Linked DNA regions of Homo sapiens: regions 2, 3 and 4 are each linked to region 1. The links come from fine-mapping of genetic effects on gene expression. A gene starts in region 1. Each other region holds a variant in brackets. All regions are shown on one strand. Distances are from middle to middle.

The links.
Region 2: its variant is fine-mapped to the expression of WIPI1 in whole blood (TOPMed, PIP above 0.99).
Region 3: its variant is fine-mapped to the expression of WIPI1 in whole blood (TOPMed, PIP 0.93).
Region 4: its variant is fine-mapped to the expression of WIPI1 in whole blood (INTERVAL, PIP above 0.99).

The regions. Positions count from the first base shown.
Region 1 is chr17:68,456,472-68,459,203 of GRCh38, reverse strand. WIPI1 (WD repeat domain, phosphoinositide interacting 1) reads left to right here and starts at 1,708. Exons shown (of 13, transcript NM_017983.7): 1 at 1,708-1,862. The coding sequence starts at 1,783. It also overlaps a transcript of PRKAR1A not described here. RefSeq lists silencers at 1,266-1,552, 1,289-1,968.
Region 2 is chr17:68,482,355-68,485,114 of GRCh38, reverse strand. It overlaps a transcript of PRKAR1A not described here. Among named protein-coding and RNA genes, the nearest start is that of WIPI1, 26 kb to the right of the region's middle. The variant C/T (reference allele first, on the strand shown) is at 1,677.
Region 3 is chr17:68,435,977-68,438,476 of GRCh38, reverse strand. It overlaps WIPI1 (WD repeat domain, phosphoinositide interacting 1), which reads left to right. Exons shown (of 13, transcript NM_017983.7): 5 at 1,998-2,095. It also overlaps a transcript of ARSG not described here and a transcript of PRKAR1A not described here. Among named protein-coding and RNA genes, the nearest start is that of MIR635, 13 kb to the right of the region's middle. RefSeq lists a silencer at 131-220 and an enhancer at 1,937-2,437. The variant G/A (reference allele first, on the strand shown) is at 1,489.
Region 4 is chr17:68,424,142-68,426,641 of GRCh38, reverse strand. It overlaps WIPI1 (WD repeat domain, phosphoinositide interacting 1), which reads left to right. Exons shown (of 13, transcript NM_017983.7): 12 at 467-567. MIR635 (microRNA 635) reads left to right here and starts at 2,094; the gene lies at 2,094-2,191. It also overlaps a transcript of ARSG not described here and a transcript of PRKAR1A not described here. The variant AG/G (reference allele first, on the strand shown) is at 1,259.

The DNA of each region.
Region 1 (2,732 bases):
AAAGTATCTAAACAGCAGTTCCATTCACTTCTGATAGTTTATACAACACCTCACAATCAGCCAAAGAGCAATAACATCTGTGAATCTATGAGCTGAACTATTTTTTACATCAGTGGAGAGAAAAAAATAATAAAGTTGAGAAAAGAAACTGTTACATTTGCATCTCAGAAAACACAAACCGGAAATCCAACCAGAAAGGTTTAGGTGAAATAGTGCCCTTTGTTCATCTATTGTAGGTCCAAGGTTAAATATATATATATATACACATACATAAAAGTAGCTTTGTCATAAACTGGGTATTAAAAGTGGGAAATGGGGAAAACCGCAATTACTTTTGCACCAACCTAATAAATTTGAATTATGCTGATTTGAGAGACTGTCATATAACAATAACTAAAATATCATCTCAAAATTTGAAAAAATGAATTAAAAATCCATCAGCAGTTATACAATCCAAAGCTGGCAGAGCTCCTGCTTCATAAACCGTATTGACAGTAATTCCGCATGGGAACATGTACAGTACTCAGCTTTTAAAAAGAGATTCTTTGTTAAGGTTTATCTCGAATTACGTGAGTTTTGAATTGTGCTATATCTTCAAGACGTTACCCCTTTCATAAACTACACTGCCCTACACACACTTTCATTTTTTTCAGCTGCGGATCGGATAGGTCTTGTTTAGATACTTTGTGCCATTTTTGTAACTTTTCAGATCAAAGGTGCTTCCCCCCACCTTCCAGCTCCGTCAAATGCTGCAGTCATTTCTGTCCTGGTTAGAAAACCTAGAATCTCGCATGCTAGGTGCTACGTTGTTTTTGCAAATTACTGTTTAGCAGTTATTTAGTGCACAGGTCTTGAAAGCAGACATGCAGACATTCTACCATTTACTGTTACTTTAGACAAATTGTTTAGCTTTGGAGCTTCAGTTGCCTCTTCTGTATATTGAGCACAATCGTATTTTCCACACAAGTTTTATAAGAATTCAAGATGACATACATAGTACGGCGCGCTTGGCAAGTAGTGAGGGTTCTCAACCGCTCGGCAATGGATAAGATAACTTGCTATCTCTCTGGCTGAGGCAGCCCCATTTCAGGAGCTTCTCTCAATGCGGCTTGAGGACTCGACAAAAGGGTGGGGCTTTGGAGTCTAACGCTCTCTGCTAAACTCTGTAAGTTTAATAGGCAGAGTTACACATGGCAAGGGGTCTGGGCGGGGTGGGAACTAGCGCGTCCTCCTGTCACCCTTGCGGCGGCCCCGACGCAGTTGCCGGACTGAAACCAGCAGATCTGGCCCCAGCCGCATTCCTTCTTCCCTCTCCCTCCCAGCTGGGCGGCTCCGGCAATGAAAACACCGCCACGTGGGCCTGCTGCCTTTGCGTCACGCGCCTTTGTCCAATGGAGAGCCGCGTTACGAAGCCAGGGGCGGGTCGCCAGCCGGGCGGGTCCGCCCACAGCTGCCACGGATTGGCCAAGGGGGGCGGTGCCCGCCAGCCGTGGCTTGGGCTCGTGGCCAATGGTGGCCGGAGGCAGGGGCCCCGCCCTATCAGGTGCTCTGGTCCTCGGGACCAGCTGGAGGGGCGAGAAGGGGCGGGGCGAAGCCGGGGACGCGGCGGGGACGGGGCGGGGTAGGGGCGGGGTGGGGACGGGGCGGGGTAGGGGCGGGGTGGGGACGGGGCGGGGTAGGGGCGGGGCAGGACCGGCGACCCGGCCCGTGGAGCCGGCGCGGGCGGGCTGCTGAGGTGGCTGTCGCCGGCTCCGAGCTGCGGCTTCCCGGGCCGAGCCCCCGATGGAGGCCGAGGCCGCGGACGCTCCCCCGGGCGGGGTTGAGTCGGCGCTCAGCTGCTTCTCTTTCAACCAGGACTGCACGTAAGCTGCGACTCGGCCCCTGCCAGGGAGGTGGGGGACAGAGTGTCAGGACCCAGGGGTGTCGTCCTGAGAGCAGCTTGTGGCTTCCGCCTCGAGGCGGCCTCGGCGGGAGGGCCGGTGTCTGCTTCGGACGCATTGGGATCTTGTTATCCCCGTACCCCTTCAGTGGGGTTTGCCGCACCCCCCACCCCACCCCACTCCCAGTGTCCTCCCAGAGCGACAAGGTTGGGCCAAGGGTGAAAGCAGGGAGTTCGCAAAGGGAGTGGTGGGGCTGCGGGGGCCACGGAATATGGGGGGAGCAGGGCGGTGGGAAAGCCAGTGACCAAAGTGGGTGTCTGGGGAAGAGAGACAGTGGCCAAAAGAAAGAGATGAGAAAGGAGAGGAAGTTGCAAGTTGACCCAGGACTCTGTAGTTGGGGCCCAGGAAGATGAGAGTACAGGAAAAACTTTCCCATTTGTCCTTGAGCATCTCAACGTGGCATCTGGGCAGGGCCTCGGACAAAGAGGCAGCCTATCCCTGCGGCCAGGCCAGCCCCTGTCCCATCCCCGACGCAGGGCATCGTGCCTGCCCGCTCTGGATGGAAGAAACCTTTGGATTTCTTTGGCTGTTTTCACATCGCCCACCCAGCCAGGCAGGATCTCCTTCTCGGAGTCCAAGACTCTTTTCCCGGGCGCAGACTGCTTTCTCTCCAGGAAACAGGAGCTCCACCCTGTTGTTTTTGAGTGGATTTTTAATGTTTTACTTCGATGTTCACATTTGGGCTTTGAGAGGGAGCTGGGCTGAAGTGTGTTTCAGGCATCTGCAGGATTCTGTGACTTACAGGCAAACGCCTGTTTCTTTCCCTATTTTCATGGAAGCGAGCCCTGGGGA
Region 2 (2,760 bases), 26 kb before region 1:
AAAGGCAGCCCACAGTATGCCCTTGAATCCAGCAAATCATAGAAGTTCAAGTTGTTCTTTGAGTCCTTGGTAAAACAGATAACATCTGCAATGTCTTAATATATTCCGTGGATCTCTTACAAACTAAATTGCTAATTTGTTAATTCTTTGCCATTGTGGCAGAAAACACATTCATTTTAAAGTGAACATAGCACATTTAACTTTGCCTTGAACTATGAAAGTGAACAATATCCTTTGACTCCCCACTTTTATTTTCATGACAAATTTAGGGACATTTTGTTAGTTTGGATTGTCTCCAGAATCTGAGACTTCACCCTCACTTGCTTTCTCTGTCGGGATGGAAAACACTACTTTGTTTGTCAGCCTTTCTTGCTACATTTGATGAGATTCCAAAACTGACCCAAATGGAGCTTTTTCAACCTGTTAAAGGACATCTGTGAAAAACCTGGAACATTTTACTCAATGATGAAAGACTGAATGCTTTCTATCTAAGATCAGGATCAAGTCAAGGTCATCCACTCTCATCACTCTTATTTAACATTATAATGGAAGATCTAGTCAGTTCAACAAGGCAAAAGCAAGAAATAAAAGGCATCCATATCAGAAAGGAAGAAGTAAAATTGTAGAAAACCCGATGGAATACAAAAAAAAAAAAAGATACCACGATAAGTGAGTTTAGCAAGGTTGTAGGATACAAAGTCAAAATAAAAAAATTAATTGAATTTCTATCTACTAACAATGAAAAATTTTAAATTTAAAACTCCCATTTCTAATACTATCAAAAATACAAAACATTTAAAGATAAATCTGACCGATGTGCAAGAGCAGTACACTGGACACCACAACACATTACAGAGATGAATTTTTAAAGACCTAAATAAATGGATAGATTTAATTTGTTTGTGTGCCAAAACAGTCAGTATTGCCAAGATGTCAGTTCTCCCCCATATTACTCTATAGTTTCAGGGCAATCCCAATAAAAATGCCTGCAGTTGTTTGTGGATTTTTTGTAGACATTGACAAGCTGATTCCAAAATTCATAAGGAAAGGCACAAATACCTAGAATAACAAAAACAAAGTTGGAGGGCTAATGGTACCTAATTTCAAAAGTCATTATAAAGCCCCAGTAATAAAACAACATGGTATTGGCATAAATATTAACAAATAGATCAATGAACTGAACAGAGTCTAGAAACAAACACACACATATATGGACAATTGATTTTTTTTCTTTTCTTTCTTTTTTTTTTTTTGAGACGGAGTTTTGCTCTTGTTACCCAGGCTGGAGTGCAATGGCATGAATTCAGCTCACCGCAACCTCCACCTCCCAGGTTCAAGCAATTCTCCTGCCTCAGCCTCCCAAGTAGCTGGGATTACAGGCATGCGCCACCACACCCAACTAATTTTGTATTTTTAGTAGAGATAGGGTTTCTCCATGTTGGTCAGGCTGGTCTTGAACTCCTGACCTCAGGTGATCCACATGCCTTGGCCTCCCAAAGTGCTGGGATTACAGGCATGAGCCACCGCACCTGGCCTGACAATTGATTTTTAACAAGGATGTGAAGGCAATGCAGTGAAAAAGGACCACCTCCTCAACAAATGGTGCTGAAGCTTTTTTTGTTTTGTTTTGTTTTAAGACGGAGTCTTGCTCTATTTCCCAGACTGGAGTGCAGTGG[C/T]GTCATCTCAGCTCACTGCAAACTCTGTCTCCCGAGTTCAAGTGATTCTCCTGCCTCAGCCTCCTGAGTAACTGGGATTACAGGGGCTGGCCACCATGCCCAGCTTATTTTTGTATTTTTAGTAGAGATGGGGTTTCACCATAATGGCCAGGGTGGTCTTGAACACCTGACCTCAGGTGATTCACCCACCTCTGCCTCCCAAAGTACTGGGATTACAGGTGTGAGCCACTGCGCCTGGCCCGGTGCTGGAGCAATTTGATGATTTGTATGAACCAATATGAACTTGGGTCCATGCACATCATAGACAAAAAAAAAAACTCAAACTAGATCATGGATCACAATGTAGAGCTAAACTAACGAATATGTAGAAGACAACATAAGAAATTCTTTTCTGACTTTAAGTTAGCCAATGATTTCCTATGTTTGACACCACAGCATGATTTGTTCAAAAAAACTGATAAATTGGACTTCCTCAAAACTAAGGACAAACAATTAGCCACATCCAGATATGATCAGACATCAAGCTGGAATCATAAAGAAATACTTTCTGCCTGGAAAACTCATAGCTTGCTCCAGGTGGTCTGTCACCCCAGTGTGGGAATGGTTGATATATTTGCTGAGAGCAAATAGTTTATATGCTGAAGGCAATTTGAGGACATCTGGCCCTTCCTTTGTCCACCGATTGACCTTAGTAAAAACAGATAAGGGAGCCAATGGATAGACACACAAAGCCTCCTTTTCTGCCCATTCTTTTTACCTTTATTGTACGGGCAATATTTGGTTTGATAACGCTAAGCTTAATGAGCTATTTAACCTTCACCCGGTGTCTAGGGTTATTGCCCCAGAGTGAAGGAAGTACAAAACTTGAAAACAAAGAGGAATTTTAAAATCCTAAATGTCTTTGCCATTTAAAATATTTATTTTTTTCCTCTTGAAAAGCTAGTGATTGCTTCCTTATTACAGCACCGTAAAAAAAGTCCCAATAATCCTTGTTTCTATATTATAGCATATAAATGAGATGAAACTGTATTTGAATTCCAGTTTTACCTCCCAACAGTTGTGTGTCATTGGGCAAACAACTGAG
Region 3 (2,500 bases), 21 kb after region 1:
GGAACCCAGCACACAAGACAACCAGATCTCCTGACTGCCTTCCCTCCCCAGTTTCACAAGACTAGAATCCCTTCTGCCTGCCTAGCTGTTCTTGAAATTTCATTTGGATAGCAAAGAATTCAGAAGGGGTGAGGAATTGGGGTTTCCAGAGCAAAACTGGAAATGGACGAGTGGCCTCTTCTAAGGCTGGGGCCAGGAATGACCTTGTATCGCCAAAGGGGTGGCAGGGCTGCCAGAACGTGCAGTTAAAGGTTCCGGGGCTCAGCCACTTCCTCCCGTAGCTATGCATGGCAAGTGATAAGAGGACAGCCCTGCTGTGGACTCAGCAAAGCCAGAGCAGGAAATGAGACCTAGGTTCCAACTCTAAATGTTTACTTTCTTTTTCCTTTGCTCTCCTTCCTCAGCAGATTAGTTGAGGTATGTTTCAGCCTGACCTAAAGTTTTTTCTTATACTTTTAGAAGAAACCCACTTAATATACTAACTTGTAATAGACGCCAGTCACTTTTTTTTTTTTTTTTTTTTTTTTTAAGAGAGATGTCTCTCTTGCGTGATCTCAAAGTTTCTGGTAACACTTTGGTTTCTATGGAATTGCTGGAATTCACTGCTATCATGTGCACCTCTATTCATCTAAACCATTGTTTTGAAAATCCTTTACTTAAATGCTCCCTTCTTGAATCCCCTTATAAATAAAAACAGCTTATGTTGGTTCAGTGGTTTGATGGGCTGTTTACTCTTCCGGAATATTATTGAAGCATCTTAAATCCAAAATGTCCTCTTTATTTAGTTTGTCTCAATGTCTAGGCACACCATCTTGACTGCAGACGCAGACCTCAAATAAACTTCCTCCTCGGGAGGTACCCATTTCCCTTATCAAGGCAGGGCATTTGGCTCAGAAATTGCTCGGTTTCTTTTTTTTTTTTTCTTAAGACAGAACCTCACTCTCACCCAGGCTGGAGTGCAGTGGCACTATCTTCACTCACTGCAGCCTCCACCTCCAGGTTTAAGCAATTCTCCTGCCTCAGCCTCCCGAGTAGCTGGGACTACAGGCACATGCAACCACACCTGACTAATTTTTGTATTTTTAATAGAGACAGGGTTTCACTATGTTGGCCAGCCCGATCTCGAACTCCTGACCTCAGGTGACCCACCTGCCTCGGCCTGCCAAAGTGCTGGGATCACAGGTGTGGGCCACCTTGCCTGGCCTGAAATTTCTCAGTTTCTAAATAGGTTCTTGGCAGCTCCTCTTCTCCAACTTGAAGTTACTGGCCAACAGTATATAATCATCTGCAGAAAGACCAATATGTACTGACTTTTCACTATAGGAAGATTTATTTCAGTTTTGAGGAAATCTCTTGTAACCCTAGAGGATAATGGAATTGGAAGAAAAGTAGATGCTGTTTCAGAGTCCTGGGGTAAAATGTAAAAATGAGCAATATATACACACACACACACACACACATATATATATATTTTTTTTTTTTTGAGAC[G/A]GGGTCTCACTCTGTAGCCCAGGCTGGAGTGCAGTGGCACGATCTCCACTCACTGCAACCTTTGCCTCCTGGGTTCAAGCGATTCTCCTGCCTCAGCCTCCCAAGTAGCTGGGACTATAGGCACGCACCACCATGCCCAGCTATTTGTATTTTTAGTAGAGATGGGGTTTCACCATGTTGGCCAGGCTTGTCTGGAACTCCTGACCTCAAGTGATCCGCCCGCCTCAAAGTGCTGGAATTACAGGCATGAGCCACTGTGCCCGGCAAGTCTCATTGTTTCACTGTAGCAAGGACGCAGCCAGTGTTAAATCAGGAGGTCTTCCCCTGTGAAGTTGCTTTATTGGAAGCCTTAATCAGAAGAATCATCAGCGGAAAGCAGTTGTCTGCAAAGCCATTCCTCCCCTTGCCAGTAGGTGGCACTGTAGCTGTACTGTTTTCAGATGCCCTCTCCAGCCGTGCAATCTCTCCCTTGGCCCCAGGCTTCTCATGTTCTGTTTCTTCTTTGCCAGGTCTATGTGCTCTCTCTATCAACCATTCCAATTCTTACCTGGCCTATCCTGGAAGCCTGACTTCAGGGGAGATTGTGCTTTATGATGGAAACTCCCTGGTAAGTTGACGGTGACCTGGCTGAGCCAACCCACCTGCCTTGGCTGTGTGGTCATGGAAGGAGATAGATAAGGACGCCCTGCCGTCGGGGGCTGGAGGCGGTGGGAGTAAGCAATACTGGGGAGTTGTTCAAGAGAAGGTGATACTATTTCCCCTCGGGCTTGCTGTGAGTCAACCTCACCATAAGCCAGCTGGCCAGGCCAAGTTAGACATCTGCAGCATAATGAAAACCACTTGCCAGCAGGGGGCCAGTTGTCTCCCTGAATGTGTCACCCTGTCCCATGCCACAGCCTGAGACAGTGTGCAGGTGTTTCATATTCCCTGCCCTCTGGTCTCTGAGGCATCCCTGAGCGGGACAAGATTGCTGTGGGAAGTTGCCTAAAGATGCGTGCAGGGCGCGCCTGCG
Region 4 (2,500 bases), 32 kb after region 1:
AGAATTGCTTGAACCAGAGAGGCGGAGATTGCAGTGAGCTGAGATCATACCACTGCACTCCAGCCTGGGTGAAAGAGTGAGACTCTGTTTCAAAAAATAAAAACTAAACTAAAATTTCCAAAGAGCCTGTAGTCCTAGCCACTCAGGAAGTTAAATTGAGGCAGAAGGATCCCTTAGGCTCAGGAGTTCGAGACCAGCCTGGGCAACATACTGAGACCCTACCTCAACAAAGAAAAATTCAAAGAGGTAGGATGCCTCAGGCATCTGAAGTGGAAAGGCAGGTCAGGCTTAAAGATGGCAGATGGTGAGGATTATGACTTGTCCTAGGCACAGTACCTCCAGGGGGAAGACAGACAGCCCCTTTGCTTCCTTTGCCCTTTATTTGAGCCCCCGCTCCCCACCCGCCAGGTCATGGCATAAAAGCAGATCCCCAGTGCTTGTTTCATGTCTCTTTCTTGGTTTCCAGGTTATTCTGAGGACGGCGGGGCGCTGCGAGGAGAAGTTATTCCTGAACATGAGTTTGCGACGGGACCAGTGTGTCTTGATGATGAGAATGAGTTTCCTCCTGTGAGCATTAGGAACCCGTAACTGGGCGGCTCAGTCTGTGTGCTTAGAAGGAAACCTTCGCCTCATACGAGAGGCAGAGTCCCTTTCCCTGTTTTCTAATCTATAACAACTAATTCTCTGCTCTAGTATTTGGAAAGCCATAGGATATTTGTTGTACTGTGTGCTTCGAATCCTACAGAGTAGGCTTTAGGTGTCGAGCTAAACCCTGATGGCATTAGAGTCACCGAATACTAATCCAGGGAGTCTTGGTGGCCTCCCTCCAGCCAGAGGCCTGCGATCCCTTACTTTGCTTCTGTAGCACTGACTTTGCTGCCTGGAAGGTAGGAACACGTGACTTGTCTAAAACTTATTTTCCTGAGGCTCCCATGGATGCGTTTGCAGAATGCTGCCTTCCTTGTGCTGGAGGGGATGGTTTCAGAGGGCTGGGCTGTGTGTTCAGGACTCTGAGCTGAGTTGCTGCACTCTGTGAACCAGCTTGACCCTCACTTACCTGCAGCTCTGGCCGGCAGACCCGCACCTCCCCAGCAGTTGCAGACACTCATTAAGAAACAAGTGGCCGGGTGCGGTGGCTCACACCTGTAATCCCAGCACTTTGGGAGGCCGAGGCTGGAGGATTGCTTGAGCCCAGGAGTTAGAGACCAGCCTGGGCAACACAGCAAAACCCCATCTCCACCAAAAAAAAAAAAAAAAA[AG/G]AAAAGAAAAAATTAGCCGGGTGTGGTGTCACGTGCCTGTAGTCCCAGCTATTCGGGACGCTGAGATGGGAGGATCACCTGAGCCTGGGAGGTCGAGGCTGCAGTGAGCTCTGATTGTGCCACTGCACTCCAGCCTAGGTGAAAGAGTGAGACTCTATCTCAAAAAGAAAAGAAAAGCAATTGTGTGCTCTGTGGAGGGCAGCAGGTGCAGGGCAGGAGCTTGCCCGAGCACCTTTAGCTGGGTTTCCCAGCAACCTGCTCAGCCTGTTCCCACAGCTAGGGCCCTCGGGGCTGGCTGAGTGCTGGGCGTGGCTTCTTCCATCACCTGGAACTGAAGACAAGATTCCCTCCTGAGAGCCTGCTGGGGCTTCCTTAACTGCTGATTCTTCAGGCTCCCATCTGGAGTAACATATAGACCGCTCTTGTGAGCTTCAGTCAAAACATCCCAGATAGTCAACCTGAAATCATTTCGAGATGGAAGTACTGATTTGTTTTGTTTTGTTTTTGAGACGGAGTCTTGCTCTGTCACCCAGGCTGGAGTGCAGTGGTGTGATCTCGGCTCGCTGCAGCCTCTGCCTCCTGGGTTCAAGCAATTCTCCTGCCTCAGCCTCCCGAGTAGCTGCAATTACAGATGTGCGCCACCATGCCCAACTAATATTTTGTATTTTTAGTAGAGACGGGGTTTCACCATGTTGGTCACGCTGGTCTCAAACTCCTGACCTCAAGTGATCCACTCGTCTCGGCCTCCCAAAGTGCTAGGATTACAGGCGTGAACCGCCGCACCCGGCCGGAAGTAGTGTTTGGGCCAAGACTTGGAGCATCAGCTCCTAGAGCCAGAGAGGAGCTGCCACTTGGGCACTGAAACAATGTCCATTAGGCTTTGTTATGGAAACTTCTCCTGATCATTGTTTTGTGTCCATTGAGCTTCCAATTGTAAAAGGATGGAGTGCAGGTCTGGCTTCTTTCTCCCGCAGATCCGTGGAACCCTCTAGTGAGCACATTTGGCTTAGAAAACAAAGCTGCGGTGGGGCCCTGCATGCAGGGCTGGGGCTGTTGTTTTGTGATTTCCCACATCGGCTCTGCGGGTCGGTCGCAGCGTGAGCTTTTACATTTCTGGCTTTCAATAGGCAGGTTGTCAGAGACGTGGCTGGCAAGTGAAGTTTATATCTCAGTGGCGGAGAGCAGTTGTTCTTAAAAATACTAATTATAAACTTCAAAACCTCTGTTGGCATGCTGCCTAA